Linked DNA regions of Homo sapiens. The protein of the gene in region 1 binds, or shares a complex with, the protein of each later gene. Links are inferred from orthologs where the notes say so. Each region holds a gene or a part of one and is shown in the gene's direction. Other genes may lie near its edges.

The links.
Region 2: CTNNA1 (region 1) and CDH26 share a complex: the UniProt entries of both Homo sapiens proteins name them as parts of the cadherin:catenin adhesion complex.
Region 3: CTNNA1 (region 1) and CTNND1 share a complex: the UniProt entries of both Homo sapiens proteins name them as parts of the cadherin:catenin adhesion complex.
Region 4: the proteins of CTNNA1 (region 1) and CTNNB1 are in contact, whole or in part, in a crystal structure (PDB 1DOW), measured with the Mus musculus proteins. The link is inferred for Homo sapiens from one-to-one orthologs. Residues at the interface, in NP_033948.1 of Mus musculus: Ala58, Leu61, Ala62, Ser64, Val65, Gln67, Ala68, Thr69, Asn71, Phe72, Lys75, Gly76, Lys78, Ile79, Glu82, Met104, Ala108, Phe111, Pro115, Cys116, Arg121, Met124, Ala128, Leu131, Leu132, Val135, Leu138, Leu139, Ala142, Asp143; in NP_001159374.1 of Mus musculus: His118, Thr120, Asn121, Val122, Gln123, Arg124, Leu125, Pro128, Ser129, Met131, Leu132, Lys133, Ala135, Val136, Asn138, Leu139, Ile140, Tyr142, Glu147, Leu148.

The regions. Positions count from the first base shown.
Region 1 is NC_000005.10:138,924,410-138,931,432, forward strand, and holds part of CTNNA1 (catenin alpha-1), read left to right. Parts: intron 1-100; coding exon 101-301; intron 302-846; coding exon 847-998; intron 999-4,836; coding exon 4,837-4,947; intron 4,948-6,063; coding exon 6,064-6,245; intron 6,246-6,420; coding exon 6,421-6,526; intron 6,527-7,023. UniProt on the Homo sapiens protein: Associates with the cytoplasmic domain of a variety of cadherins. The association of catenins to cadherins produces a complex which is linked to the actin filament network, and which seems to be of primary importance for cadherins cell-adhesion properties.
Region 2 is NC_000020.11:59,953,674-59,961,428, forward strand, and holds the start of CDH26 (cadherin-like protein 26 isoform a precursor), read left to right. Parts: upstream 1-4,749; 5' UTR 4,750-5,053; coding exon 5,054-5,122; intron 5,123-7,755. UniProt on the Homo sapiens protein: Cadherins are calcium-dependent cell adhesion proteins. They preferentially interact with themselves in a homophilic manner in connecting cells; cadherins may thus contribute to the sorting of heterogeneous cell types.
Region 3 is NC_000011.10:57,764,797-57,771,819, forward strand, and holds part of CTNND1 (catenin delta-1), read left to right. Parts: intron 1-7,023. UniProt on the Homo sapiens protein: Key regulator of cell-cell adhesion that associates with and regulates the cell adhesion properties of both C-, E- and N-cadherins, being critical for their surface stability.
Region 4 is NC_000003.12:41,195,511-41,202,508, forward strand, and holds the start of CTNNB1 (catenin beta-1), read left to right. Parts: upstream 1-3,994; 5' UTR 3,995-4,160; intron 4,161-4,211; exon of another isoform or gene 4,212-4,297; intron 4,298-4,632; exon of another isoform or gene 4,633-4,871; intron 4,872-4,880; exon of another isoform or gene 4,881-6,878; intron 6,879-6,998. UniProt on the Homo sapiens protein: Key downstream component of the canonical Wnt signaling pathway.

The DNA.
Region 1 (7,023 bases):
GCTGGCACCAAGCAAACAATAAATGATAGATGCCAGCTTACAGTTGCCACCTTTTCATAGAAAGCCTCCTTCCTCATTCAACTTTTTGCTTGTTCTCCAGAGAATCACATTTTGGAAGATGTGAACAAATGTGTCATTGCTCTCCAAGAGAAGGATGTGGATGGCCTGGACCGCACAGCTGGTGCAATTCGAGGCCGGGCAGCCCGGGTCATTCACGTAGTCACCTCAGAGATGGACAACTATGAGCCAGGAGTCTACACAGAGAAGGTTCTGGAAGCCACTAAGCTGCTCTCCAACACAGGTACGGGAACTCTCCCTTTCCAGTGCTCGCACACACCGCAGCCTCAGTGAGGCAGGCCACCCCATTAGCCCAGCCCTGTGGTGAGGAAGGAGGAGTTGGGAACTCAGATTTGGTCTCATGGCACATCGGGCTCCTGAGAAGCTGGTCATAGCCAAATTCAGGCCTCACAAGCATATTTTCTTCATCTGTATCTCATGAGTAATCACGGGACTAATTCTAAACACACGATTTAAGATGAATTTCTGAGTTAAATCTCCTATTAGTGAGTAAAGACTAAATTAAGGTAGGTCCCATTCTTAAGCAAGGCTTCAAGTTAGTCTCACTTCAAGTTCTCAACCATCCAATCTCTGTTGCAGAGAAAAAGATGATTTGAGTCGTAAAATACTGCATTTAATTTATTTCAACTGTAAATACCCTTCACACAGGTAGAAGCAGAGGCTCATCATAAGCCTCACCTCTTTCTGTCTAGCTGAGTGATTCAGGGAGGGCCAGGGGAATGATGCTGCCTGCTGACCAGGGTATCTACTGTGCCTCTTTCTCCACAGTCATGCCACGTTTTACTGAGCAAGTAGAAGCAGCCGTGGAAGCCCTCAGCTCGGACCCTGCCCAGCCCATGGATGAGAATGAGTTTATCGATGCTTCCCGCCTGGTATATGATGGCATCCGGGACATCAGGAAAGCAGTGCTGATGATAAGGGTGAGTAACTGCATTTCAGACGTCTTAACAGCTTCTTTCTTATCATTTGCTAAACTTGAGCAATGCGTCATTCTAGAACTCGGCAGATGCGGTGGCAGTATATTAAAACCATGAATCTAAAAGCTGTTAGAATGAGATATATTTAATTACGTTGTCTAAAATGACTGTTAGTTGCAAGTTAGAGCCCAAACTTGGGCCAAGAAGGGGAGCTAGCCTGAGTTGACGATTTAATTTAGGATAAACAGTCTCTACAACATGAGGCTTCAGTTTGAGTTAGGCAGGAAATTATAGAAAATAATGGTTCTCAAGCTAGTATCAGAGAAGGAAGTATTTTCATAATGCGGATTCAAGTTATTGTTCACATGAAGTGCCCCTCTCTTCGGAGGGGCTGCAGGCAGACGGGATGATGGAACCCCAGGGTGTTGGGGGGAGGAGCGGCCCCAGGTGATGCTCCTAGGCTCATGGCCAAGTGCCGAGCCCCTTTCCCCATAGCCAGAGTGCCTGGAGGGCCTCTGTCGCAGGGGCAGAGGAGAAAGGGGCCTCTATGGCATCTGTGATTGAGCTCCCGGCATACCGTCCTGCTCTCTGACAACTATTCCTGTCTTCATTCAAGAATCATCCAGCCCCTGGGCCTCTCAGTTTCTTGATGTCTTGTCCTCCTCCACCTCAACCTCACGGCCATAGCTGTACCTCAGCTTTTGTCACTGCCTGCCATTGTCTTTGTCATCCCCAGCAGCCTAGATCTATTGTTCAGGTTGCGCCCTCGAGTCCTGCAACTCCCAGCGAGCCTTTGAGTCTACTGTGGGGTCTTCAGTCAGTTGGTCCTCCCCATGTGTCACTCAGCCCCTTGTGTCCTTGGTTCAGTCCTTTGTTAGCTTTGAGTCCATAGTTGAATATACTCACTCCTCTGCCCTGCTGTTTCCTCACACCTGCCTTGCAAGGTGCAGTCCTGGCAAGATCCTGCTCTCCTGAGCACAGTGCAGATGGCCACAGCCACGCTGATGGAGCCGCAGAAGCCGCGGCCATTTGTGCGCCCTTGCTGCCCTGCAACAGGCGTCCACCCACCCACCCACACCTGTGCCCCTGTCCTGTTTGGCCCACTTGCCGATTTCGTTGAGGATACTGAGGCAGTTAGTGCGTCCACCCCTCTGCATCCCATGTCTGTGTGCTCTACCTTCCTCCTAGCACCATGGGCATTGCTCTCGGTGCTTCTGGCCAAGGCCATCCCTTGCACGTCTTTGTACTAGGATCCCAGCTTCTTCACCCCCTGCCTCCTGTACCTTTCCCCAAGCCTATGATGATTTCTCCCATTTTTAGGGGGAAAAAAAAAGTCTCTTGACCCACACCCCTTCTCAGTCTCCTTGGCTGGTTTCTCCCCATCTCCTCAGCCTGTGAAACACGGGTGTGGCCTGCTGGGAAGTCCTTGACCTCTTCAGAGTCCTGTCTAGAGGCCGACTCTCCTAAGTTCCACACCTGTCTGCGCACCTTGCCTCCTCCCTCTCACTTGCTCCACCCAGGCAGCACATGTTAGTTGATAGTGACTCCGTCTTCCCTTGCTCGGGCCCAGACCTCGAATCTTTTATTTCCCTTTTGTCCCATACCTCACATCTGCTTTATCTGTGAATTCTTTTGGCTCTCCGTTCACAGTAGAGAACCTGAACATGTTCTCACCCTCGTCTAAGCCACCAGCACCTCTCACCCGGGTTCATGCAGGTGCCACTCAGCTGGTTCCCTGTTCCCATCCTGGGTGCCTACAGTCTCATGAGCCACAGGGCAGCCAGAGCGATTTCTGTAAGCTTCAATCAGATCATGTTATCCTCTGTGCCAGCGTCTCCACAGGCCGCCACGTCACTCATTCTTTATGCTGGCCTACGAGGCCTTCTGGGACTGGAACCTGTCACTTCTCCAACCTTATTTCCTGCTGATCTCCTCTTGTACTCATGGGGTTCCAGGCAAGCCGGTGACATGGGGGCAGTGAGCTAAGCCCCCCTTCTGTGGCCTCCTTGCTATTCACGCAGTTCCCTGGGCCAATGCCCCTTCCCCACGGCCTCTATGCTGCCACCCGCCCCCCCTTCCCCCTCCTTGAGAGCACCTTCTCGTGAGACTTTTCCAAACACCCATATAGAATTAAAATCTCCCTTTATTCATCACTGCTTTCTTCATAGCACTGGTCACTTTTGATGTGTCATATAATTCATTTGCTTACTTTGTTGTCATTTCTTCCATTAGAATATGCGAGAGGAATTTTTGTCTGTTTGTCACTTTGTATCTTTAGGGCCCAGAACAGTGCTTGGCAGAGAGATAATGAATGAATGAATGAATGAATGAATGAATGAATGAGAGTACTCGGTTTTCTTGGCAAGAACGGTTCTTGGGTCTGCGATGGGGTGCTGGGGAGGTAGAGATGATGTTAGGAGGTGGTCCTTTGAAAAGCCCCTTAACTGATTGATTGCATGCCAGTCCCGAAGGCATGTGTGACTGCAGCGTTAAAACTGTCAGTGCTGGCATTGTGTTTTGTGCCACCGAGTCCATCGGCCTCCAGGACCTCACACCGACATGCTGTCTGGTCCCCTGCGTGAGCGTCCACTGTTCTCACCTCATCAAGGGACAGGCCCAGCCTTTGCACAGCACGTTCTTGGTGGTTCCAGAATGTTTCTTGCATATCTTCTTGTTTGAACCTCACTGCAAGTCCTTGGGCTGGGCTTGGACTATGTCCTGGTACACAGACGAGAGACTCGCCTCACTGCCCTCCTGTCACAGGCCAGCCGGCTGGGCTGAGCGCCAACCCCAGCTGTTCTGCCTGCTGCCCCCTTACTGATAACTGCCAGAGGACAACATTATGTTTCAAGTCAGTAGCTAATCATGAGAGGCTGGTAGTTGGTACAAAATAAGAATTTTATTTCATAATTAAAGCAAAGAGCTAGGACCAGTAATCAGTCCCTTGGGTATTTACTCAGCCCTCACCTGCCATATTCTCCCCTCTTTTCTTTTGATGAAAGTCAAAAGAATACTTTAAAATACATTGCCTATTTTTACTCCTCCAAGCAGCCTTGGTACCCTAACAGAAGGCCCAGTTATTTAATTTTCTTTTTGTCATAAAGTAGGAAAGTTATACAAATCCGCTTAATACTATACAAAACACCTCTATTTTTAAGTCAGTACCTTTTCTACCCAGGACAGTTCTCATCTTTGTCTTAAAATGCCGGTGTTGGGGAAGTAAATTAGGAAGTAAAAACCTTATGTCACTGGGCACAAGTGGCTCACGCCTGTAATCTCAGCACTTTGGGAGGCCAGGGCAGGCAGATCACCTGAGGTCAGGAGTTCAAGACCAGCCTGACCAACATGGTGAAACCCCGTCTCTACTAAAAATACAAAAATTAGCCGGGCATGGTGGCATGTTGCCTCTAATCCCAGCCACTTGGGAGGCTGAGGCAGGTGAATCTCTTGAACCCGGGAGGCGGAGGTTGCATTGATTCCAAGATCACGCCACTGCACTCCAGCCTGGGTGACAGAGCGAGACTCTGTCTCAAAGGAAAAAAAAAAACAATCATGTCTTACAAAGAAATAGTGAATTGACTCAGTGATAGCAATTGAGCCCCACACACAGTGAAACCAGCCCAGGCCTGCTGTGGGCCAGGCAGCCCAGCGTGTGCACCAGTGAAGCAGAGGCTCGAGACAAATGCTGAGTGATTTTGACTTTATTCACCATACTGTTCAGAACACTGCACATTAAAATCCAGAATTCTGGGCCTCCGTGCACCTGGCCAAGAGGCTCAGGGTGGCTGGGGGCTGGTGGCCCAGAGATGTGTCTGACCTGTGATCTTTGTCTGGGTGGCAGACCCCTGAGGAGTTGGATGACTCTGACTTTGAGACAGAAGATTTTGATGTCAGAAGCAGGACGAGCGTCCAGACAGAAGACGATCAGCTGATAGCTGGCCAGAGTGCCCGGGTAAGGAAGCGCTCCGTGGGGCAGTTCAGCTTGTGCTGCCGACTTTCCCTGTCCCCTTTCTTGTTTCCAGGAAAACACCCTCAGTATTCAGAACACCGTTTCTCTCTCTCTGTCTCTCTGGCAGTAGACTGAAGTTAAACTAAGTTGTGGCACCTGCTAGTCAAATGTAGCCTCCTCAGCTAGAGGCAGACCAGGTCCTGGGCCTCCTCTGCAGTGCCCTGAGCTTTAGTTTATGATAGAGCCCTGGGTCAGGGAAGGGCTAAGATTTAGTCAATGCAGTGTTTGTTGAAAGGATCGTGAAATTTGAAAAAGATTGCTGCCTTTGTCCATCTCGATACTATGGGTATGAACTATTTAATTATTCATGGGTTTAAAAAATAACAGTGGTACATTCAAGAAAGCCAGTCAGAGCCATTGCATTCATTTGAGTCATTAAATCTTCAATCAATAGCATTTATGTTTTGGGGAGGATGCCAAGAAATATTTCTAAGGAGTCTTTGATTTCACTCCTTGGAAATCTGTCGTGAACAGCGAGCACATCCCTGCCTTATGTCCTGCTCAGTCATGAGCACTTAGGGAAGCTGAGAGGGAGGAGCTCCCCAGCCGTAGGTCTGTGGGCTGGAGGTGGGCAGCAGGCCTCCAGGTGTTGCTCAAGTATGGCCTGAGTGCCAGCGGTATCTCTCAGCCCTCTTTCTTCAGGTGTACATTCTAAAGCCACTTTCAGTTCATCTTGAATAGTTGGAAATGTCCATCAGGGCCCACCAGGGAAAGGGCTCCACACTTTCATCAACCCCTTCTCTCATTTCTTGTCTTATATTAATAAGAATTAAGCAGGTTCTGTCCCTGCACAGGTGTGATTCCAAAGCTTCCACATTAGCCTTCCACCCCTCGCTGTTTCCTTCCACACTAAAACTTGTGCTCAAAAGTGGGTCGGAAATTCAGGCTGCCATAAGTTTCTGCAAAAAATGAGAGAAATAGCCCTTCAGGCGAAATGAAACCTATTAAAGCATTATCCTACCTATGCCACAGATTGCCTGTTGGAAATATTCTTGGCTAATGCACTCTGAGAACTTCATATTCTTTTTATGTAAGAGCTCTTTGTGCTTCTGATCACAGGCGATCATGGCTCAGCTTCCCCAGGAGCAAAAAGCGAAGATTGCGGAACAGGTGGCCAGCTTCCAGGAAGAAAAGAGCAAGCTGGATGCTGAAGTGTCCAAATGGGACGACAGTGGCAATGACATCATTGTGCTGGCCAAGCAGATGTGCATGATTATGATGGAGATGACAGACTTTACCCGGTGAGCAGCACCCCGGCCCCACCAGGCTGCACAGGGGCTACTTTCTTCCCCACAGGTCACCTGCGCAGCGGCTCAGACAGCCCAGGCCATGGGGCTTTGTGGACAATCTTCTTTTTCTACTCCAACTGTGAGGGGCTTCACATACAATAATCCTTGTTCTCTTCCCTCTTCTCAGAGGTAAAGGACCACTCAAAAATACATCGGATGTCATCAGTGCTGCCAAGAAAATTGCTGAGGCAGGATCCAGGATGGACAAGCTTGGCCGCACCATTGCAGACCATGTAAGTGACAGACTTGCCAGGTGGGTCTCCAAGCTCCTCCTGGGGCTCAGGCAGCCCAGCCTGGTCCATTCAGGGTAAGTTTCATGGGCCACAGCACTTTTGCCACTCATCTCTAAAAATGGTTCTTATTAATCCCAGCATAGATTTGTAAGGATTCTCTAGAGCGGATGTGTATGTCCTGGAATCTTCCATCGCTTGGTAGCCAAAATTAACCTCTGCTATTGTCTCTTATGTCTCAGTTCCCTCTCTCCCCCTCTGGGCAGGGGCCGAGAGCAGCCAGAAGCCATGTGGCCAGTGCTGTGGAAGGCTGGTGTGCCTAGATGGGCCCAGGTTTCTTCATCCTCAGCACTGTGTTTCTCAGCCACCCCGTCTTCATCCCCCTATTCCCTCACACTGATAGGTACAAAAATACGGTTCCTACCGCCTGGAAATTGTACAATACATTTCATTTGGTGTTTTAAGCCTGATCAAGAGAAGCTCTTTCTCAGTTACAGTTT
Region 2 (7,755 bases), on another chromosome or scaffold:
GAGTGAGATTCTGTCTCAAAAAAAAAAAAAAAAAATCAAACATATACGAAAGTGGAAAGAGCTTCACAGTGAATACCCGCATGCTTACTCTCATAACCAGACAGTTGCCACCTGGCTGTGTCTACTCTGTCCATCCGTCTAGCCACCTAGCAGTCCCAGCTGTGGCCTATTCCAGGCATCAGTATCCTTCCAGCTTCTGCCTGCCATGCTCACCCTCCAGGGCCTCCACTGTGGGTAGCTGTTTTATACTATATATATATATATATATATATATATATATATATATATATATATATATATATATATATAGAGAGAGAGAGAGAGAGAGAGAGAGAGAGAGAGAGAGAGAGAGAGAGAGAGAGAGAGAAAGAGACAGAGTTTCACTCTTGTTGCCCAGGATGGAGTGCGATGGCTTGATTTCGGCTCACTGCAACCTCCACCTCAGCGATTCTCCTGCCTCAGCCTCCCAAGTAGCTGGCCATGTGTCACCACACCTGGCTAATTTTTTTGTATTTTTAGTAGAGACAGGGGTTCACCATGTTGGCCAGGCTGGTCTCAAACTCCTGACCTCAGGTGATCCACCTGCCTCAGCCTCCCAAAGTGCTGGGATTATAGACATGAGCCACTGCGCCCAGCCCTGTTTTATATTATGTTAATAGCTGCTATGTCTATGGCAGAGTTGAACCTACTTCACCACTACTGGAAGCAGAACTCTTCCCTGATTATTTTAAAAACCCTTCTCAAGAGTGTTCTGAGAAATTAAACTTTTCTTGTGACTATGAAGAAACGGGAATTGAATTCAGAAGTATTGGCTGGAAAATTATTTTTGTGTTAGTGAATATAGAAAGGTCTTGACTCAGGGGACATATAAGCATGAGCCATTTTATTCTTCCTTAATCTGAGCCTTCAACCAAACCATTTCAATCCCTCAGTTACAACTGGGGCTCATCATTACCCAGTCACGTCAGTCAGTAAAACCAGCCCAGCTTAAAACTTCGATGTCAGCCTTGATGGAAATCTAATCTCTTCCATCCACCCTGGGTGGGCTGGACTCCCAGGTGGGTGTGTGGGCAGGGGAGGCTTGGGCAGCCCCTCCTCACCTTCCAACCCAGCACTGAGATCCTAAGGCATGGTGGTGCTTTGCTGTTGGGACACCTCTGCTCCCTCCCTCTTCCAGGCTCTGCCTCCCCTAGCGTTGGTGACAGAAAGAGAGACTAAGGGAAAGCCTAAGGCCTGTCCTCTGTAACAGGCCACTCTCCCAGCCTTTCACTGCGGCTGGCTCACCTCTGCAGAGGAGGCATCGAATGCCAGCCTTCTCACCTCCCCAGCCAGGAAAGAAGGCTTGAGCCTAGCGCTTTACTTCTCTGGTGTTTACTTGATCCATATGGAAAATGCCAAAGGTAGGCAGAGTCAGGTGCATTTGTCATCTTCCCTCAGTCCCACTGTCCACCTAAGTTCCCCTCCTTTCAGCTGGGCATGAGGCCTGGCCAGCCAGACCACTGTCCACGCAGAAATCCAAGCCGGGTGGGGATGCCTCATGATGCAATCATCATTACTAAAAAAAGAACAGTGAGAACTGGAGGTGGCTGGGGGCACTCCTCAAAAACATGAGAAGGTTGACCCTGGGTAGGTAATTGTAGCTCATACCTCCCTTGCAATCAAGTAACTTTTATCTCATGAGCAATCTCATTTCTTCACTTGTCAGCTTACAGGGAGCTGGGAGCTGCCACCATGTGGCTATAAAGTATTACTGTACTTCCAAGGACACAGAAAGGAGCGCTAGACTATTGTCACTATGATCACATGCTCAGAATAGAAAGGGAGTGGGGACATCTTCAAGCTCAGGCTCACCCAAGATGTGCAGCAGGTGATGCCCAGAATCACCAGCTGAGTTCCAGGCCCCGTGGCCTACCCAAGTAGGGTTGCCGTGTGGGGAACTGGCATTCTGCTTAGTTATTTTAAACGCTTGAGAATGTTGAAAACTTGTTTGTTTCTAATATATTAAAATACCAGTTCCTATGGTGTTTTTTGTTTTGTTTTGTTTTGAGATGGAGTTTCACTCTTGTTGCCTAAGGCTGGAGTGCAATGATGTGATCTCAGCTCACTGCAACCTCCGCCTCCCGGGTTCAAGGGATTCCCCTGCCTCAGCCTCCGGAGTAGTTGGGATTACAGGTGTGTGCCACCATGCCCGGCTAATTTTAAAATACCAATTTCTTTTAAACTTAAAACGAATGTGAAAGTGGAATCCTTCACTGTTGTCCCCCAGCTCCGCCCAGACTAGAACATTGTGAGGCTAATGCCTTTCTAGCAACAATATTTTAGTCCCCAGCGCTATTCTAGCAGCAGGGAGTGCTCAACTGACGTGGTTTTTTCACATATATTTAACATGGTTTAGCTCACCTGACTTATATATTCTAAATTAGTGATTCTAACTTAATCAGTTTTTTAAAAATAGGCTATCATTATAGAAATATCCACTTTGAAAATAGGCACAAGGTATTCAGTTTCTCTTTATGCACAGGAAATATCTATAGACTTTAAAGTTGTATTTATTATTCTTTTCAATAATAAGCTATTAATTTCAATAAAAATAAACTATTCAAATTAAAATATTCAGCAGCATCTCAGAGCTATGAATGTTCAGTTAAGCAAAGAAAGTTTTTTTTTTTTAATTGGGAGATTTTTATTTTATATTTTATTTTTGATGAGTTCTTTTTTATTTTTATTTTTTAATTTTATTTTTCCATAAGTTATTGGGGTACAGGTGGCATATTGGTTACATGAGTAAGTTTTTCAGTGGAGATTTGTGAGATCCTGGTGCACCCATCACCCAAGCAGTATACACTGCACCATATTTGTTGTCTTTTATCCCTCACCCTCTTCCCACTCTTCCCCCCAATTCCCCAAAGTCCATTGTATGATTCTTATGCCTTTGTGTCCTCATAGCTTAGCTCCCACAAATCAGTGAGAATATACAATGTTTGATTTTCCATTCCTGAGTTACTTCATTTAGAATAATAGTCTCCAATCTCATCCAGGTCACTGCAAATGCTGTTAATTCATTCCTTTTTATGGCTGAGTAGTATTCCATCATATATATCTGTATATACACATATATATACATATATATGTGTATATATATGTGTATGTATATATATACATATATGTGTGTATATATGTGTATGTATATATATACATATATGTGTGTATATATGTATGTATATATGTGTATATATGTACATACACATATATACACATATATGTGTATATATACATATATGCGTGTATATATGTACATACACATATATACACACATATATGTGTATATATGTACATACACATATATACACGCATATATGTGTATATATACATATAGATACGCATATACACATTTTCTTTATCCACTAGTTGATTGATGGGCATTTGGGTTGGTTCCACGATTTTGCAATTGTGAATTTTGCTGCTATAAACGTGCATGTGCAAGTATCTTTTTCGAATAATGACTTCTTTTCCTCTGGGAAGATACCCAGTAGTGGGATTGCTGGATCAAATGGTAGTTCTACTTTTGTTCTTTAAGGAATCTCCACACTGTTTTCCATAGCAGCTGTACTATGTTATATTCCCCCCAGCAGTGTAGAAGTGTTCCCTGATTGTCACATCCACACCAACGTCTACTGTTTTTTGATTTTTTGATTATGGTCATTCTTGCAGGAGTAAGGTGGTATCGCACTGCGGTTTTGATTTGCGTTTTGCTGATCATTGGTGATGTTGAGCATTTTTTCATATGCTTGTTGACCATTTGTATATCTTCTTTTGAGAATTGTCTATTCATGTCCTTATCCCACTTTTTGATGGGATTGTTTTTTTCTTACTGATTTGTTGGAGTTCATTGTGGATTCTGGATATTAATCCTTTGTCAGATGTATAGATTGTGAAGATTTTCTCCCACTCTGTGGGTTGTCTGTTTACTCTGCTGACTGTTCCTTTTGCAGTGCAAAAGCTCTTTAGTTTAATTAGGTCCCAGCTATTTATCTTTGATTTTATTGCATTTGCTTTTTGGTTCTTGGTCATGAAATCCTTGCCTAAGCCAATATCTAGAACAAGCAAAGAAAGTTTACCTTTTATTTTATCTGTTTACTACTTTAAACAAGGTAATGTGATAAAAAGGTCATGTTAAGGTAATCAGGGTTAATGTATCACAGATTGTGTTTTAAAACTTGCTTACTGCAACCTTAAGTATTGGTATAATATAATCTCAAATTGTCTCTTTCAGAATTCTCATGCAAAGACTCCCGGGTTGCCACAGAGATCCCTGTCCATAGGGAGGCTCTTTCCCATCTCTCCTCCCTCCCACTTTAATTCCAAACTCAAAAAGGCAGATTAATCTAAGCTTAAAAAAGGTTTTAGTAGAAATAATTTGAAAACCCCAGAGCCCTGGGATATTGTTGGAATAACGATTTTTAGTGCTTTGGAAAGTAAAAGTTGATTTTTCTTTTCTTTCATTCTTCCCCATCCCTTCCCCCTTAATAAAGTTATCATTCTTGTCATTTTCTAGTTTTTTTTGTTTGGTTCAAGAGGATAAGATTATAGAAAATAGTCACTAACATATCCTGCTATAGAAAGAGATGATTGGACCTTCTATTTGGAAACCAGAACAAACAAGGAAACAAAGAAACAAATAATTCTGCTTTCCGATAGGTGCTGGTTTTACTTCCGCTGGCTGAGCTGTTGTTCCTGAGGTCAGACCCCAGCCAGTCTTTTGTGTACGTGCAGGACCATGGTGGCTTTAGTTTCTACCCCACCCTTCCTAGGAACTCTACTTGTGGCAAACGTATGTTCAAGCTTACAAGTCAGCCCACCCCACTCTGATAAATGCAAGAAAAGCTGAAAAGGGAGGAGCAAGATGGGATGAAAGCATCTGGGCCAAAGTGACCTGAAAACCTTTAGAGAAGAAGCTGCTGGCTGAGAAGGAGGTGTGTGGCTCCGGTGAGACCACCAGCTTGGAGGACTGGTCATCAGCTGCACGTTCTGGGTCTGTCTTGGGTATTCCCATATGGCCATGAGATCCGGGAGGCACCCCTCGCTGCTGCTGCTTCTAGTGCTGCTGCTGTGGCTGCTGCAGGTAAGCTGAGCCTGCAGCCTAGTGCTCAGGTGCAGGGAACTGAAAGCAAAGCACAAGCTGGCCCTGCCCCTTCTAGGCTAAGGGAGGGGAGAGGGACTGAGTGTGACCTGCTGGGACCCAGGGCTGGCTGTCTTGAGAATGGCTTAGGTAGCAGGGGCTCTGGATTTATATAAAGGGAAGTTAAGGGTCCCAGTCTGTTTGGGGCAACAGTGGGAGCAGGCTAAGGGACCTGTTTAAAACTAATTTATATAGTTCACACTATTTTTAGTGAGATTACATCAACACACACGTGTTTTCTTTCTTTGTTTCTTTCTCCTTTTGTTGAGACAGGGTCTGGCTTCATCATCCAGGCTGGAGTGCAGTGGCATGATCAAGGCTCACTGCAGCTTTAACCTCCCAGGCTCAGGTGATCCTTCCACCTCAGCCTCAAGAGTAGCTGGGACTACAGTAACTTACCACCACGCTGGCTAATTTCTGTATTTTTTATAGAGATGGATTTTCACCATGTTGCCCAGGCTGGTCTCGAACTCCTAAGCTCAAGTGATTTATTCGCCTTGCCCTTCCGAAGTGTTGGGTTTACAGGCATGAGCCACCTCACCCAGCCAACACACACAATTTTTTTTTTTTTTTGAGACAGGGTCTCGTCATCCAGGCTACAGTGCGTGGTGACATCTCAGTGCACCGCAACCTCCTCCTACTGGGTTCAAGCAACCTCCTGGCTCAGCCTCCCGAGTACTGGGACTACAGGTGCACGCCACCATGCCCGGCTAGTTTTTGTATTTTTATTAGAGACAGGGTTTCACCATGTTGGCCAGGCTGGTCTCAAACTCCTGACCTCAAGTGATCTGCCTGCCTCAGCCTCCCAAAGTGTTAGGATGACAGGCTTGAGACACTGCGCCCTGCCAAGTTTTATAATGATACTTCTGTTCACACTTTACATAAGATTGAGGAAATCTCAGTTGTCTGGATCCAAGGCAATTTGAGCAAACCCATGGGGATGGAATGGCTAAATCCATTGCCCCCAACTGCCACTGTTTAAATGGGAATACAAACTAGTGGAGTCAGGATTCGAAACACATGGGCTTGCTCTGTTTGTACTTAGAGTGGACAGAGGTAATGTTGCATGCGCTTGTTGGTTATGATCTGCTTCGTTGGCTTTCTGTAGGTAGGGAGAGGGAATCATTTCTTCCTTTGAATACCAGCTGAGGGTGGGAAGCAGCCCAGTGGCTGGTAACTGTGAGCTCTGGACTGGGCTGCTTGGCGTCCTGACCTAGGCTCCTTCACAGCCCGCTGGGGACCTAGGCCAGCTTAACTTTGTTCCTTACCTTGGATCAAGTTGAACTTACCTAGGGAGCTTCAAGGGATCTCAGTGCCTGGGTTTTGCCCCCAAAGGTTCAGGTTGAGCTGACCTGGGAGTGCACTGGGTGTCAGTGCACTGGTTTTAACATAACCTTGTTAAGCCTATTTTTCTTCACCTGAAAATGGAGCTAGTAACTGAATTTATCTGAGCCAGTGGTTGTACCAGTGAATGAGGAAATGCGTAAAAGCCCTTGGTACTGCGAAAGTTGTCAGAATCAGAATGGAGTTCCTTATGTTAAAACACACACACACACACACACACACACAGGCACAAAGCCTGATATATAGACACAAAGAAGGTTATGAAAAGGGGGTTCTCACATTTGTAGGCTTGATAACTAAAACTATCACAAAAGCTCTGCAAAAATAACAACTTTGCACAAAGGCCGTTAAAACCTTACACAAAAAATACTTTTTCGAAGAAATCTTCCCAGCAACTTTTTGTGCAAACTCAGACCAGTGTCACCCTTCTTATTGATCTTTGTAGCCAAAGATAATTATTTCAAAACAATGATATAATCCTTCTCATTTTTTCCTTTGAAAACCTTTATCTCCCTTTACCTCCCTGACTCTGCACATCGTTTACCATGGCACACATATTCCCATGGATATGTCCTTGCCCAGACAAACGTCATCTTCTCTTAGAGAGCCTCTGTCTACTATTAGGTTCACAGTTCAGTAACGACCCAGCCGTTTTTCTAATCACAGTGAAAATGGTTGGCAATATTCATTCAGAGCTCATGCTAAAACTATTTACTGGATACCTGCTTTGGGCCAGGCACTGGGAATACACCAATAAACATAATAGGGGGAAAACCCTGTCTGAAAGTGGATAACTTGTTTGGTACCAGTTGCTTGAGGTTTGGAGAATTTTCTTGGTCACATTTTGCCATATCAAGAGTTACGAGTTTCCTTAGTCAGACAGCACATTAATTTGATCTCCAATACTTCACAGAAGTCCTTTTTAGTAGCCCATGTTTGCATGGATTTGAATATAGTCCAGATCAAATCCTGTCCCCATCCTTCCCTCACTCCTGCTCCTACCCACAATGAGTCTGATCAGGAAACAGACCTGAATTCTCTTCCCTCTGGCGTATTAGTGCAGTGCCAAAGCAAATTAATTGACTTCTGAGGGTGGTTGGGTGGGGGTGGGCAGTGGGAATGGGTCTGTGGATTGTACTTCAGTGATTGATGACAGCAGCTTTATGTAGATTCCAGGGAATCAAGACAGATGAAGAGAACATGATTCAATAGATGTAAGAAGTTTTTAGCAA
Region 3 (7,023 bases), on another chromosome or scaffold:
AGAGAATGGAAACAACAGCTCGAACTAAAACGAGCCCTTGCTAGAGGCAGGAGTGTTTCATCTTGGCACAGGGGCAGTACTCACTTAAATTTCCAACTCCCTCCAACTCCCCACTACCCTTGTTGGGATAATGTATGCAAAAGATCTATTTTCCATAGAGCCCATGGGGAGCTGGATGTGCTAGAATGGATATTATTTTAATCTTTAGAACGAGAATCTTTCCATATCCATATGCCCACCATTGCTGTCCTAATTTCTTAAACTTCCTGGAATTGTGTCACACGTTGTTTATCAGTAAAATTTCTTCTTCCAGAGAATTTGTTAGGTATGTGGTTTGGAATGATAGGATATCATCAACTTGCAGGGACAGGCTTGTAGGAGGTAGTTCAGATATTCTTGTCTTTCCCTCTAGACTATGAGCAGCTTGGGTGTAGGTACTGTCTTATCTCTGTATCTTTTTAGCACCTGTCTTAGTGTTTGGTACATACTGAGGTGCTCAGTAAGCCTTGGTTAAATAAGGCATTTGATGAGAATCAGTGAGGGACTGATTTGTGGGGAAGGCTTGAAAGGAAGCAAAACAACATAGATTAATCAAATTGCAATGTACTTTTGCAACTTTTACTGTAGTCTGTAGTTTTAACCTTTTATGCGTCTCCTCCCTTAATTTTTTTTTTTTTTTTTTTTTTTGAGACAGGGTCTTGCTCTTGTCATCCAGGCTGGAGTGCAGTGGTGAAATCATGGCTCACTGCAGCCTCAAACTCCTGGGCTCAAGTGGTGCTCCCACCTCAGTCTTCTGAGTAGCTAGGACTATGGGTGCACACCACTATGCTTGGCTAATTTTTGTGTATTTTTGTGGAGATGGGGTCTCTCTATGTAGTCCAGGCTGGTCTCAAACACCTGGGCTCAAGCCATCCTCCTACCTCGGCCTCCTAAAGTGCTGGGATTATAGGTGTGCCCCACCACACCTGGCCCTCCCTTATATTTTTAAGCAAAGTTTCTAGAGATAATGGAGGATTTAAAATTTTAGCTTTTCTTTAATCCTGTTCCTTTCTTGGCAAGTGGTACAAAGAATAGTATAAAAAGTAAGGATCTGGCCTGGTGCGGTGGCTCACGCCTGTGATCCCGGCAGTTTGGGAGGTCCAGGTGGGTGGATCGCTGGGCAACATGGTGAAGACTCCTCTTTACAAAAAATACAAAAATTAGCTGGGCGTGGTGGCATGTACCCGTAGTCCTAGCTACTGGTTGCAGCAAGCCGAGATCATGCCACTGCCCTCCAGACTGGGCTTGCAGAGCCAGATCCTATCTCAAAAAATAATAATAATAAATAAATAAATAATAAGTATCCTAGTCCGTTCATTTCATAATGAACTTCAACACTGAAAACCTTAAATGTTGCCATTTTCTAGGGGAGAGTATATTAAGACATCAGCAGAAAAGTACTGCTTTCAGCCCTGGTTGGAGGTGAATGGTTTCTGTGCTTGTTAATAAAAACGTTAAGAGCTTGGGATGATAGTTTTGAACATCAGTGTTTCAAAGAAAGTATGTTTGGATATCAGTGTATTTTTTAAATCACTGTTTTAGCCACAAAACTTTAGATTTTGTTCATGTATTGGGAAGCTTATGAGTTTAAGAACCGAAATTAGTTTTCTTGGGTAATTTAAAAGGTATTAACAAGGAACTTGCCTACAGGAGTGAACTGTAGGTAATAAGGATGTGAATAAGTACAAATATTCTTTCATGTTCTCTTCCCTCAAAGAAGGGTTAAATGACACACAAAGCTGAAGTAGGGATTGCTCTGCCTAAATTATGCAGCTGCCTCCAAGGTTTCCAATAGAGCATTGATGTAGCCTGGCAGGGAGATTGTAAGAAGGCAAGAACAACTGTTCTGGTTAGAACTAATGAGGGGGAAATTAGGGTATGGATTGATTTGTATTTAATTGTTTAATGTATTTTTCGGAAGTAATTTTTTTCCCTAATTCTACTTGGAATTGCATGTTATTATTAAATATTAAGCATTGAGAATGGGGCCTGAATTTACCACTTTATTCAGGGATCGTGTTCCCTGTTTTTAGGGCCACTTCTTCTCCAGTGAGCCCTTCAGTTTGATTGGTGTGGTGTGGACAATTTAGATCAGGCATATAGTGGGGGAATTATAAAGAGGCAAAGAATTTTCTTATCTTTTTTTTTTTTTTTGAGATGGAGTCTTGCTCTGTTGTCCAGGCTGGAGTGCAGTGGCACGATCTCAGCTCACTGCAACCTCCGCCTCCCGGTTTCAAGCGATTCTCCTGCCTCAGCCTCCCAAGTAGCTGGGACTACAGGTGCGCGCCACCACGCCCTGCTAATTTTTTGTATATTTAGTAGGGATGGGTTTTACCATTTTTGCCAGGTTGGTCTCAAACTCCTGACTTCATGATCCGCCTGCCTTGGCCTCCCAGATTACAGTCTTGAGCCACTGCGCCCGGCCAGAATTTTATCTTAAAGCCTTCCTTGCTGGTCAGCAGTAGGTAATTTGGTCATGACTTTCACAAAACATGTCCCAGGTTGGTTGATGTGATGTGATGACAAAAGCACTTCTCAACTTTTTATTTCAAACTTGCAGGAAAGTTGCTCTAGCACAGTAACTGGTATACTCTTCATTTGCCTAGGTATCATTTGTTAACATGTTGCCACAAATGCTTTATTCTATATTTTTTGGTAAATATGCTAACCAAAAAGGGAATTTCCAATCTGAGACTTCCATAATATGGTGAGGCAAGGCAGCATAACATAATGATTAAGAGTATGGATGGGGAGCTAGACTGCCACGGAGGAAACATGTAACCTAGGGCAAATTGCTTAATCTCTCTCTGCCTTGGCCTCCTTGTCTGTAAAATGGGGATAATATTAACCATCTTATAGATTGTTGTGACACTTAAGTTATTTAATGTATGTGAACTTTATAGAGTAATGCAGAGCTCCTAGTAATGTCTTGTGTTTGCTATTAGAATGGATGCTTCAAAGAACTCAAATTTCGTTTGTTGAACTAATGCCCTTGAAGGTCTTTTTTTTTTTTTTTGAGACGGAGTCTTGCTCTGTCTCCCAGGCTAGAGTGTAGTAGTGCAATCTTTGCTTGCTGCAACCTCTGCCTCCCGGGTTCAAGCAATTCTCCTGCCTCAGCCTCCCGAGTAGCTGGGACTACAGGTGCCCGCCACCACGCCCGGCTGATTTTTGTATTTTTAGTAGAGGAGGGGGTTTCACCATATTGGCCAGGCTGGTCTCGAACTCCTGACCTCAAATGATCCACCCACCTCGGCCTTCCAAAGTGCTGGGATTACAGGCGTGAGCCACCATGCCCGTCCGAAGGTCTCTTAAAACCTGAGAATCTGTGGTAGATGTAGGTGCTTGCATTACAGAATATATGGGCTTCCTGAGTGGGTAAAGCTAACTTTTAAATTTTTTTAATGGGAAAAAATTAGTAATAGGTAATATTGGAGAGTTGTGTGGGTGAGGTTCAAAACAACGGTAGTATGAGAATGGATAACTTTAGTAAAGTGAAGTGTCAGTGGGAGGAAGATAAACAGAATGATTTGTATGATTTGTGGACATCATCCTTTTTTTTTTTTTTTTTTTTTTTTTTAGACAGAGTCTTGCTCTGTCGCCCAGGCTGGAGTGCAGTGGCGCGATCTCGGCTCACTGCAAGCTCTGCCTCCCGGGTTCACGCCATTCTCCTGCCTCAGCCTCCCGAGTAGCTGGGACTACAGGCGCCCGCCACCACGCCTGGCTAATTTTTTGTATTTTTAGTAGAGACGGGGTTTCACTGTGTTAGCCAGGATGATCTTGATCTCCTGACCTCGTGATCCGCCCACCTCGACCTCCCAAAGTGCTGGGATTACAGGCGTGAGCCACCAAGCCCAGCCAGACATCATTCTGTATTTGCAACCCTTATTTGTGGACATTTATAAAACTGACATGAGTTCATGAATGCTTCCTGTGAGAAGTGTGCTTCTAAGAAAGGAGTCAGCTTTTATATGTGGAAAAGCCAAGCTGTGGTCTGTGGGAAATACATATGTGTTAGATACAACCTTGCCTAGAAACTTGCGGGTTTATTCCAGCCTAGGAATTTTCCTTCTCTTTTCCTCCCTTTTCTTCATACTTAAGAACCCATGAAACTAGTGTTCTAAATAGTACTTAAGCCAATTTCTTTGAATAATTTTTTTTTTTTACATTTTTATTTTAAAAATGAGACAGAGGCTGGGCGCGGTGGCTCACACCTGTAATCCCAGCACTTTGGGAGGCTGAGGCAGGCGCATCACTTGAGGTCAGGAGTTTGAGACCAGCCTGGCCAACATGGTGAAAACCTGTCTCTACTAAAGATACAAAAAAAAAAAAATTAGCTGGGCATGGTGGTGCATGCCTGTAATCTGAGCTACTCGGGAGGCTGAGGCAGGAGAATCGCTTGAACCCGGGACCCGGGAGGTGGAGGTTGCAGTGAGCCGATATCATGTCATTGCACCCCAGCCTGGGCGACAGGGCGAGACTCCGTCTCAAAAAAAAAAAAACAGAGAGACAGAGTCTTGGTATGTTGCCCTGTCTCCAACTCCTGGGCTCAAGTGATTCTCCTACTTCAGCCCCTGGAGTAGCTGGGACTACAGGCACACACCACCTTGCCTGGCTATTTAAGCTAATTTCTTTTGGCACTCTGTAGCCTCCCACATTCAGTTCCTCACATTTATTTTACCTATAATTTCTTCTACCAATTCTCCTGTATTTTCTCCTTTTCTTTTGCTTTCCTGTTCTCTGTGGTGTCTTCCTTTGTCTCTCTTTGCCTCCTCTTGCCTCCCCTATCTTTTTTTTCTTTTAGGTTGGGTTTCCTTTTTTTCCCTTTAGGTTTTCCCTTAGGTCTTCATGGGCGTTGCTTTGCCTCACTAACAGTTAACATAAAGACGTATTTCTGTTTCTTGTACCCATGTGCTAAAGGTACAACTGTTAGGATACCACTTCATTTCAGTTAGATCTAGTTTAGGCATACAATTGTAATCCAAGAAGACTGATCTCTTCTAGTGATTCAGATTGGTTTTATCTTTGATTTTTAGATTTCATCTGCATTTCTTGATTAATTACTCATTTTGGTTTAGTTGACAGTTGAGCAAAAAAAAAATTACTTTCTCCGGAGTAAATCATCTGTTTTATTTATGCTTTCTATGTTGTTCTATGTTGTAGTGCAGTAGCACATTAGGAGGTATCTTTGTGGAGTGAAAAGATTTTTGTGGCTGGGCGCGGTGGTGGTTCATGCCTGTAATCCCAGCACTTTGGGAGGCCGAAGGCAGGTGGTTCACCTGAGGTCAGGAGTTTGAGACCAGCCTGGCCAAAATGGTGAAACCCTGTCTCTACTAAAAATACAAAAATTAGCCGGGCGTGGTGGCGGGCGCCTGTAATCCCAGCTACTCGGGAAGCTGAGGCAGGAGAATTGCTTGAATCTGTGAGGTGGAGGTTGCGGCGAGTGGAGATCGCACCACTGCACTCCAGCCTGGGCAACAGAGTGAGACTCCGTCTCAAAAATAAAAAATAAAAAAAAAAAAGAAAGATTTTTGTTACACGGTTGGGCTCGGTGGCTCACACCTGTAATCCTAGCACTTTGGGAGGCCGAGGCAGGCGGATCACGAGGTCAAGAGATTGAGACCATCCTGGCCAACGTGGTGAAACCCTGTGTCTACTAAAATTTCAAAAATTAGCTGGGCGTGGTGGCACATGCCTGTAGTCCCAGCTCCTCAGGAGGCTGAGGCAGAAGAATCCCTTGAACCCAGGAGGCAGAGGTTGCAATGAGCCGAAATCGCGCCACTGCACTCTAGCCTGGCGAGAGAGTGAGACTCCATCTCAAAAAAAATAAAAAAATAAAAAAAAAGAAAAGAAAAGATTTTTGTTTTAGGAAGCTCATATTTTAAGAAACTAAAATATATTCTCATGGTTGAGGACATAAGACATTGTTATAGAAACTAGGTCAACTTCTCAATACCTTTATCAAAGCACCTGCAGTTCCCATTTCATTGCAAGTGAAGTAAATCTCATTGAAATAAAGTAGCTGGTGTATATTCAGTACACTTTTAAAATAGCCTATTTTAAAAGAGAAATTGGTGCCAATCTGATTTATTTCCTGCTTTGTTGGAATGGGGGAAGTTCTGTAACCTCATTGCTGTTCTGCTCTCTATTGACTACTTTGTTAACTGGGGCACAGTTGGCCTCTTGGATGTCTACCGTGCTGAAGGTCAGCCAAATAGGCAGGTAAGACTACCTAGGCCTCTTCATAGGCCTAACTAAGATCACAGTTGGAAAAAAAAAAGTATAGAAAAAGAAAAGAAAGTTGTTTTTTTTTTCTAAAATTTAACTTTTTGTATTCATTGAAGAAGGAAGTAAAACATCTCCATTCAAAAGAAATTTGAGAGTCTGTTTATGCCATACACTGAAGTACAACAATAAACAAAATAGACCTACTGTTTGTTCTCAAAGAGCTTACATTCTAGTTGTGAGAGACAAATAATAAGCGAGTAAATATGTAGTATGTCAGAGTGTGGTAATATTATTGAGAAAAAAGTAAAGTAGAATGAGTAGTATGGAGGAAAGAACGTCTCAGGGTGGGGGTGAGGTTATTTTATATAGAGTGGTCAGGGAGGGTCTCATGTGTAAGGTATGTTTGAGAGAGACCAAGAGAAATGGAGGATGGAGTCATGTAGATATGAGGAGTAGGAAGTGCAAAGGCCCTGAGGCTGGTTATTGCCAATGAACAAAAGAGATTGAGGGGAGGGAAGGAGAAGTAAGAGACCTGTCCAGAGAGGACCAATGGGAATGTATTTTGGGGGAAGGGGAATAATGTAGGGTCTTGTTGTATACTATATTGTACAAAGAAAAATTATCTCCACTTCAAACCCCAGAGACAACGGCTGTTACCGAATTTTTGTGTCTTTCTTGTAACTTGAGGTAGCACCTGACCCAACCTCCATATTTCTCCCATTGTGGAATCTCCATGAAAGTATAGTTAGCAGATAATTT
Region 4 (6,998 bases), on another chromosome or scaffold:
CATTGTTTAAGAAATGACTTAAAAGAAAAGAATCATTTTTTTTTCTGAATACTTTGGAAGGTGAAAATGGCTTGTTTTAATCTTATCCATGATTTACTATAATTCTATTATTTTTAGCAGCTGGAGTCCAGAAATGATTTTTTCGATGAATTTAGGATTTTGCCGCAGTATACATCTGCAGTCCCAGAATCCTCCGGTAAGTTAATCCTTCTTGCGATGGGAAACGCCTTTAACCTTCTTGTGAATGAAATATCTGCAACCATTTTGAAATTTTTAATGGGGTGTGTGTGTGTGTGCACGTGCGTGTGTTGCGGGTGTGTGTCTCCGAAACATGATTTCTTAGAAATGCAGCGGTACTTGTCTGAGTTCTTAGAAACATTGAGAAACATATATACCTTTATGTTCTTTGAATATCATGGACGATGACTCCATTGCTTCTCCTTCATACTTTGTATGGTAGCCATTAAAATGTACTTCCTTAGTCTGGCAAACCAATGAAGGCCTCGAGTACACATAACTCCAAGCATGTAGGGTGTTCCTGACATAACTGAAGTGACCAGGCCATAGCAACCACCATGGCCATTGCCTCCCGCCACCTTCACCGCCCCTCCCTCGCTCTGCAGTATACATCAGCTGCAAGCTTTCCACAGTGGCTTTCCGCCGAACTTGCCCAGTGGGTTCCTAGATTACTTCTGTGTGCGAGAATAGCCAACCATGTAGTCTGACAAGAGGTATTTACAACTACTTAGCCTGTTCAGCTGGAAAGAAATCAAAAGATAACACTGAACCCTGAGATGATGTATTACAAATCAAAAGTCCCAATCCATAAATAGCCCACCTGATGAACTGCTAAATGAAAAGCTGATCCTGATTGTTGTCCAGTGTTTTTACATTGTCCTAAGAAATATTTTTAACAAGCCTTCTTGGAGAGTTGGGATTGTTTGTTTTTAAATGCATGGAATATTATTCTTACCTTTCTGCTGGGAAGGGAGCCTTCCGAGGGGATTCGGATGTAGAGTCCAAGTGAGACCACACCCTACTTTCACAGCTTTTTTTCTACCGTTTCTGCTTCTTTTTAAATAGGGTGGATTAACAGTTACAATTTTACATTAATTTAAGAGACTTAATCAAATGGAGCCAGTCATCCGTTTCCCTCTCTCTAAGGGAAGCTCATTGTCTTAGATGCTCAATAAATGTTTAATTAATGGATTTGATAGAGTTAAGTATCCTAAAAGTGAACGAACCTTCTTTACAATACTGGCATATTTCTGTGATTCATATTTCTGTCTGAAGTGTGAAATAATCTTGGCTTTTTTTTTTTTTTTTCCTCTCTTAAAGGTAATCAAAAGCCTCTGTTTTAGCGAAGGGATGCCTTACATTCAGGTTCAGTCTACCACTGCTTTATATGCCAGTGGCCTGATAGCGTGAAAAGAAATATCTTCTCTTTTAAACTAGCTGGAGACACTTTTGTTTCTAAGAACACAGCCTAAAAATTAGAACCACTTGTCTGTCGCCATTTTATAAAATTAATTTATGTCAAACCCGGGGTGACTGGCTCTAGAAGGAAAAGACATAAAACAGATAACCAACTGTTTTTATGAAATGTATTGTCCAAGGTCAATTCAAAAAAATTATTTAACAAAATTACTTATTTTACCAAACTCATGTATCTTGATAATGTATTTTTCTTTGATTTAATGATAGTGTTTGTCTTCATTTCACAGAAGTTATTCATCTCTTATTTTTGGTGAGACAACTAGAACAATTTCTGCTTTATGAAACATGCAAATAAAAATTAGGAGCAATGTTAAATTTAACTAACTTGGTTTAATGCTAGTCAACCAGTAATTCTTCAGTACACTTAATATGATGGGAAAAACAGCATGCTGCATTGTTGCAAATTTTACATTTTCTTTAATAAAATGTATTTGTTTACGGTGTCAGTAGGGATTAAAAATCATAATTCTAAATTTAAAGTATTTAAATTATAGAAAAATGATTCCATTATTTTGGTAATGGAACAGAGAAATACAAATATAGAAACGTTTTTATCCTTTAGATCTTCTAATGGTGCAGATATTTCTTAACCAATTTCAAGAGTGCCTTATTCAAAAACAAAAAACCTGCACATAGAAAAAGCAAACATGTTTTTTTAAAAAAAGCCCTGTAAAAGTGGTTAATCTGTCGTCTGATTTTCAATGTATGACTTTAATCAATTGCATATTCCTTAATTCTGCAAATGACAATTAAAATTAGGAATCAGTACCTGAAAACGCCATTTATACTTTTGAGTTTATATTAGAAACACGGTTTTGATGAAATACCTTTTTCGGTTCAATCTTTTTGAATTGTGACCACAACCAATAGCTACACTTAGATTCTACAGAATTAGTAGGAAAGATACAAATGAGAAGGTCTTTCTAGACAATGGATCTCACTGAACATCATCTTAGTGTGTAGACTTTTTCCACTGCAGTGGCCCACATGTGCTATGGTGACAGACGGCAGTTGGCATTACCACTTATATAGTAAAATATCTTTAAGACAAAAATAAAAGTTATTTAAAGAATACGCTGGCCCTGAAACATGAGCTGTGCCTTAAACTACATATCCTACCTCCATGAGTGAATGAATAAGTGGGTTTTCCGCCTGCATCTATGTGTTAAGACCTATTGTTTGCTTGTATTAATTGTAGTCCTGGGATAAAAGCACAGAGGTAACTTTCACTGCTGCTTTTTGTACTCTCTCCAATGTTTTGGAGGAAAAATAAGCACAAACAATAGCCTAGAGAAACTGAATCGATCATACTTGTTGCAGCTTCGACAAACGTCAATTTTGCTGCATTAGAATGGGAAACATTTTTCAGTCTATTGAAATGAATTACAAACGTTTTTAAATAGAAAATTAGTTAAAAAATTGGAGGCTGCTTAATCGATAGCTTTCTCTATAAACATACTTGGATTTCACAAATAAGTAATACCGTAAAAATCTTCTTCTCCAAAGAAAAATCCCCACAAATAAATCTATTGATACCTAGTGACAAGTGGAACCAGATAAAAATGGAATCTATAAGAATTAACCTAATTGACAGCGCTCTGGAGCTAATCCATTTCCATTAGTTATTTGTTCACAGTAGGTACTCCTAAGGACTTGTTGAATTGCGGGCTTGGCGCCCGTTCTACGGAGAGTTCACAGCCTTCGTGAGTGGGGACAGAAGGCGGCTCGGCCCGGTGATTCAGGTCGAAATTCAAGCTGAACAGCCTGCTGAGAGGTGGGATCCACCATCCGGACAGTGGGGGGCTTTGGGGGTGCTGTGAGACTGGGCTGCGACCCAGGTCCAGCAGGGAGTGTGCGGCACAGACCACAAGGTCGGCGAGGCCCCCTAACCCGCGCCCGGCCGGGAACCCGCAGACCAGCGACGGGGCAGCTGCGGGGCCAGGAGCGCCCCAAGACGGGCGGGCGCTGAACCCGAGCCCCTGCCGCCGCCCTGGCCCCGAACTTCCGCCCTCCCAGGACCTGTCCCGGCCGCCCCGAGCGGTACTCGAAGGCCGGGGCCGAGATGCCACCTTCCGCAGGCCGCGGGAAAGGCGCGCCGAGTCCTGCAGCTGCTCTCCCGGTTCGGGAAACGCGCGGGGCGGGGGCGTCGGGCTTGGGACAGGGGAGGATACCAGGGCCACCTTCCCCAACCCAGGCCGCGGGGGCCCGGCCTCCCCGATGCAGACCACAGCGCCCTCACGGGCTGCCCTCAGGCCGCGCAGCGGGCAGCCGCCAGCCGTCACCCCGGGGAGCGTCCGTGGGGTGCCCAGGCACCCCACCCCGGCCCGGGGCGCTCAGACGGCAGCAGACTGCTGGGCGGCGCGGGGACTACTTTCCACCGCCCCCTCGCGCCCCGCCCCTTGTCCTCGCGCGGCGGAACGCTCCGCGCTGCGCCGGTGGCGGCAGGATACAGCGGCTTCTGCGCGACTTATAAGAGCTCCTTGTGCGGCGCCATTTTAAGCCTCTCGGTCTGTGGCAGCAGCGTTGGCCCGGCCCCGGGAGCGGAGAGCGAGGGGAGGCGGAGACGGAGGAAGGTCTGAGGAGCAGCTTCAGTCCCCGCCGAGCCGCCACCGCAGGTCGAGGACGGTCGGACTCCCGCGGCGGGAGGAGCCTGTTCCCCTGAGGTGCTTGGGCGCTCCTTTCCTTATCCTTCCGGGGCTGCTCCCGCTTCCTCTCGGAGCCAAACTTCGTAGCAGGCGCGCGGTCCGGGCGGCGGGCTGGGCGCAGCCGGGAGGCCTGGGGTTGGGAGCGGGGAGCTCAGGTGGGGGACGGTGAGGGTGGGCCGCGCCCGGGGCGCGGAGGGCGGCGGCCGGGCCCGGGTTCCGGTCGCGCTGCCTCTCTGGGGCCCTGGGGGCATCGCTTGCGGGGAGGGGGCGCCGCGGGGGCGCGTACAGGAGCCCGGATGGCAGGCGGGGTGGGGGTGGGGGTGGGGGTCTGTGGTTTCCGTCCGGGGCTCTGGCCTTGGCCGAGTTTGGGGGAGGGACCCGGTGCCTCGGGATGCGCCGGGCCCTGGGTGGGGGGCGGGGTGGGGACGGGGGGCTCCGCCTTCTCAGCTCTTGCGGCGAGTTGGGGTTCGGGCGCTGAGGCAGAGACGCCACCCTAAGTCCCATCAGTCCTGGGGATCGGACCAGTGGACTTTCTCTTAAGATTTCCTCTTTCATTCTTAAGAATAGAAGTGTTATTATTTTTTTTAATGCCCTGGCTATGTGAGTTTGAATCGAAGCAACTTTAAACCTTAGAGCAACTAAACTCTAAGTGCAGCGGGTGCGATGCGTCAGTAGGGTGAGCACATAAAAAATCCATGTCTTGCACCTGTATTTTAGCGTACTATGCAGGTGAGTGAAAGCAGTGGATAATGTACTGGGAGTCTTATGGATTTATGGTAGTGGGTATGAGACCCTGGTGAAATAAGGGGGTGGAGGAAGGCGAAGGTGATGGCTTACTGTTTCTTACCAAGTGAACTGCAGGATTCAGCCTCTGACTCAGACCGCTTCGAGAATTTTGTTCGTAGAAATAATTTAAATTTATTCAAATAGTTTGATGGCAGCTAAAATTGAATTATAGAGCACGTTTTCTTTTCAGCGGAGTGAATTTTTCCTTCGCTCCAAAGCTGGCCAAATGGAATTCAAGCATTGCAACTTCTTTCAGTGTTTTGTCTGGAGAGAGGACTTTGAACCGAGACTTTTCGAAGTTAAGTTCCTATAGCCTGCTTCTGAATCTGCCAAGCTTGAAAGCTTTGGCAGTTGGGTGTATGTAGTTGTTGCCTTCGTTCTCTTCCCTTTTGGAGGGAGCGTTGTCTCCTACTTTGTATCTTCCAGACATCTGTGGTCTTCCCCCCACCCCTCGAGTTTGTGAGTGGTGAATGAAGAAAGACTAGGCTGCTGGTATGCAGAGGTCGGCAAAAGGAAATCGAGGAGTGGTTTTAGTGAAATGAGAGCTTTGTATCATGAATAATGGTGGCTTAGGCTAGACATCAACTTGAAGAGACGGCAGCATTTCCTTTCATAAAGTCTAGGCTAATGTTTTTCAGATCGCTAAGTTGTAGTTTGTCTGGAATTTAGGAAGCCATTTCAGTATTTGTCACTTGGTGAACGAACATTCAATACCTTCAGATGTCTTCGTGTTGACTTGTATTCATCCTAAGAAATAGTAAATATAGTCTCAAGTGTTATTTATGTTATACTGCTGGTTTATTCTCTGCTTAAATTATTGACATAAATTTCTACTTTGGAGGCTTTTCGTTTGAACTAAGGCTGTGCGGAATTTATTTTACTTTTATATTTAAATCTTTGAAAAATCTCTGATTAAAAAAAAAGTACCCTTAAAGGTTTGAGGATGTCCTTTCACACCAGACAAAATTTGGTTAATTTGCGCCCAATATTCATTACTTTGACCTAACCTTTGTTCTGAAGGCCGTGTACAAGGACAAGGCCCTGAGATTATTGCAACAGTAACTTGAAAAACTTTCAGAAGTCTATTCTGTAGGATTAAAGGAATGCTGAGACTATTCAAGTTTGAAGTCCTGGGGGTGGGGAAAAATAAAAAACCTGTGCTAGAAAGCTTAGTATAGCATGTAACTTTAGAGTCCTGTGGAGTCCTGAGTCTCCCACAGACCAGAACAGTCATTTAAAAGTTTTCAGGAAAAACCAACTTAAAAAAAAATAAGGTGGCTAATTAAAAAAAAATGAAGCATTTAACAGTGTTCAGGTTTCAGAGTATGGAAGAGGGGTTTTTTAAACTGTTATCTGATTATTTCTTTTACCAACATGATATAGAAAAGTGTATTTCCAGTATTAAAATTTATCAGACTGAGCTTACTGTTCCTGTTAATGACTGGAATAAAAATTGGCATAAATGAGGGTCTGTATGCTTGTTTTAATAACACCACCACCAAGATAGAAAACGAGGAGGCAAGTTTCTCCAAGGGTATTTTGAAATGTGTTAGCAAAACTATTGCAGATACTCGTTTTTGTTATAGGGTGAGGTGGGGAGAGGCGCATGCTAAGTATTGTTGAAACTAGGGATGTAGAGAATTAAAAGTTTGAATATAATTATTTTGTAGTTATAAGTAGCAGTGAAATTAAATCTCCTGCAATAGACTATAGAAGTATATTTAGCCAAATGAAACTTCAGTGTTATTGAAATGAAATAATACATCTGTCCTGTTACAAGATTATTTTTATTTCTCTTGTGGTTTCCTAGCTTCTGATAATCAATAATTGTAGATGAGTAGGTGGTAAGTTTTAAGTTTGTACTTTGAGCTTAGTCGGAAGCATGCTTGACTGCCAACCCGGGGCACAAAGGATGAAGGCTTTTAGAACTGGACAAACTTCTAACAAAAGGTATTTGCAACTCTTTTGTAGTGTGTCATGTTGATTTGTGACATTGTTTTTGAAAATATGTGTTAACTTAGTTTTCTTGTAGCCCTCTTTTTATTGGAACTGTGGTATCTATTGTTGAAA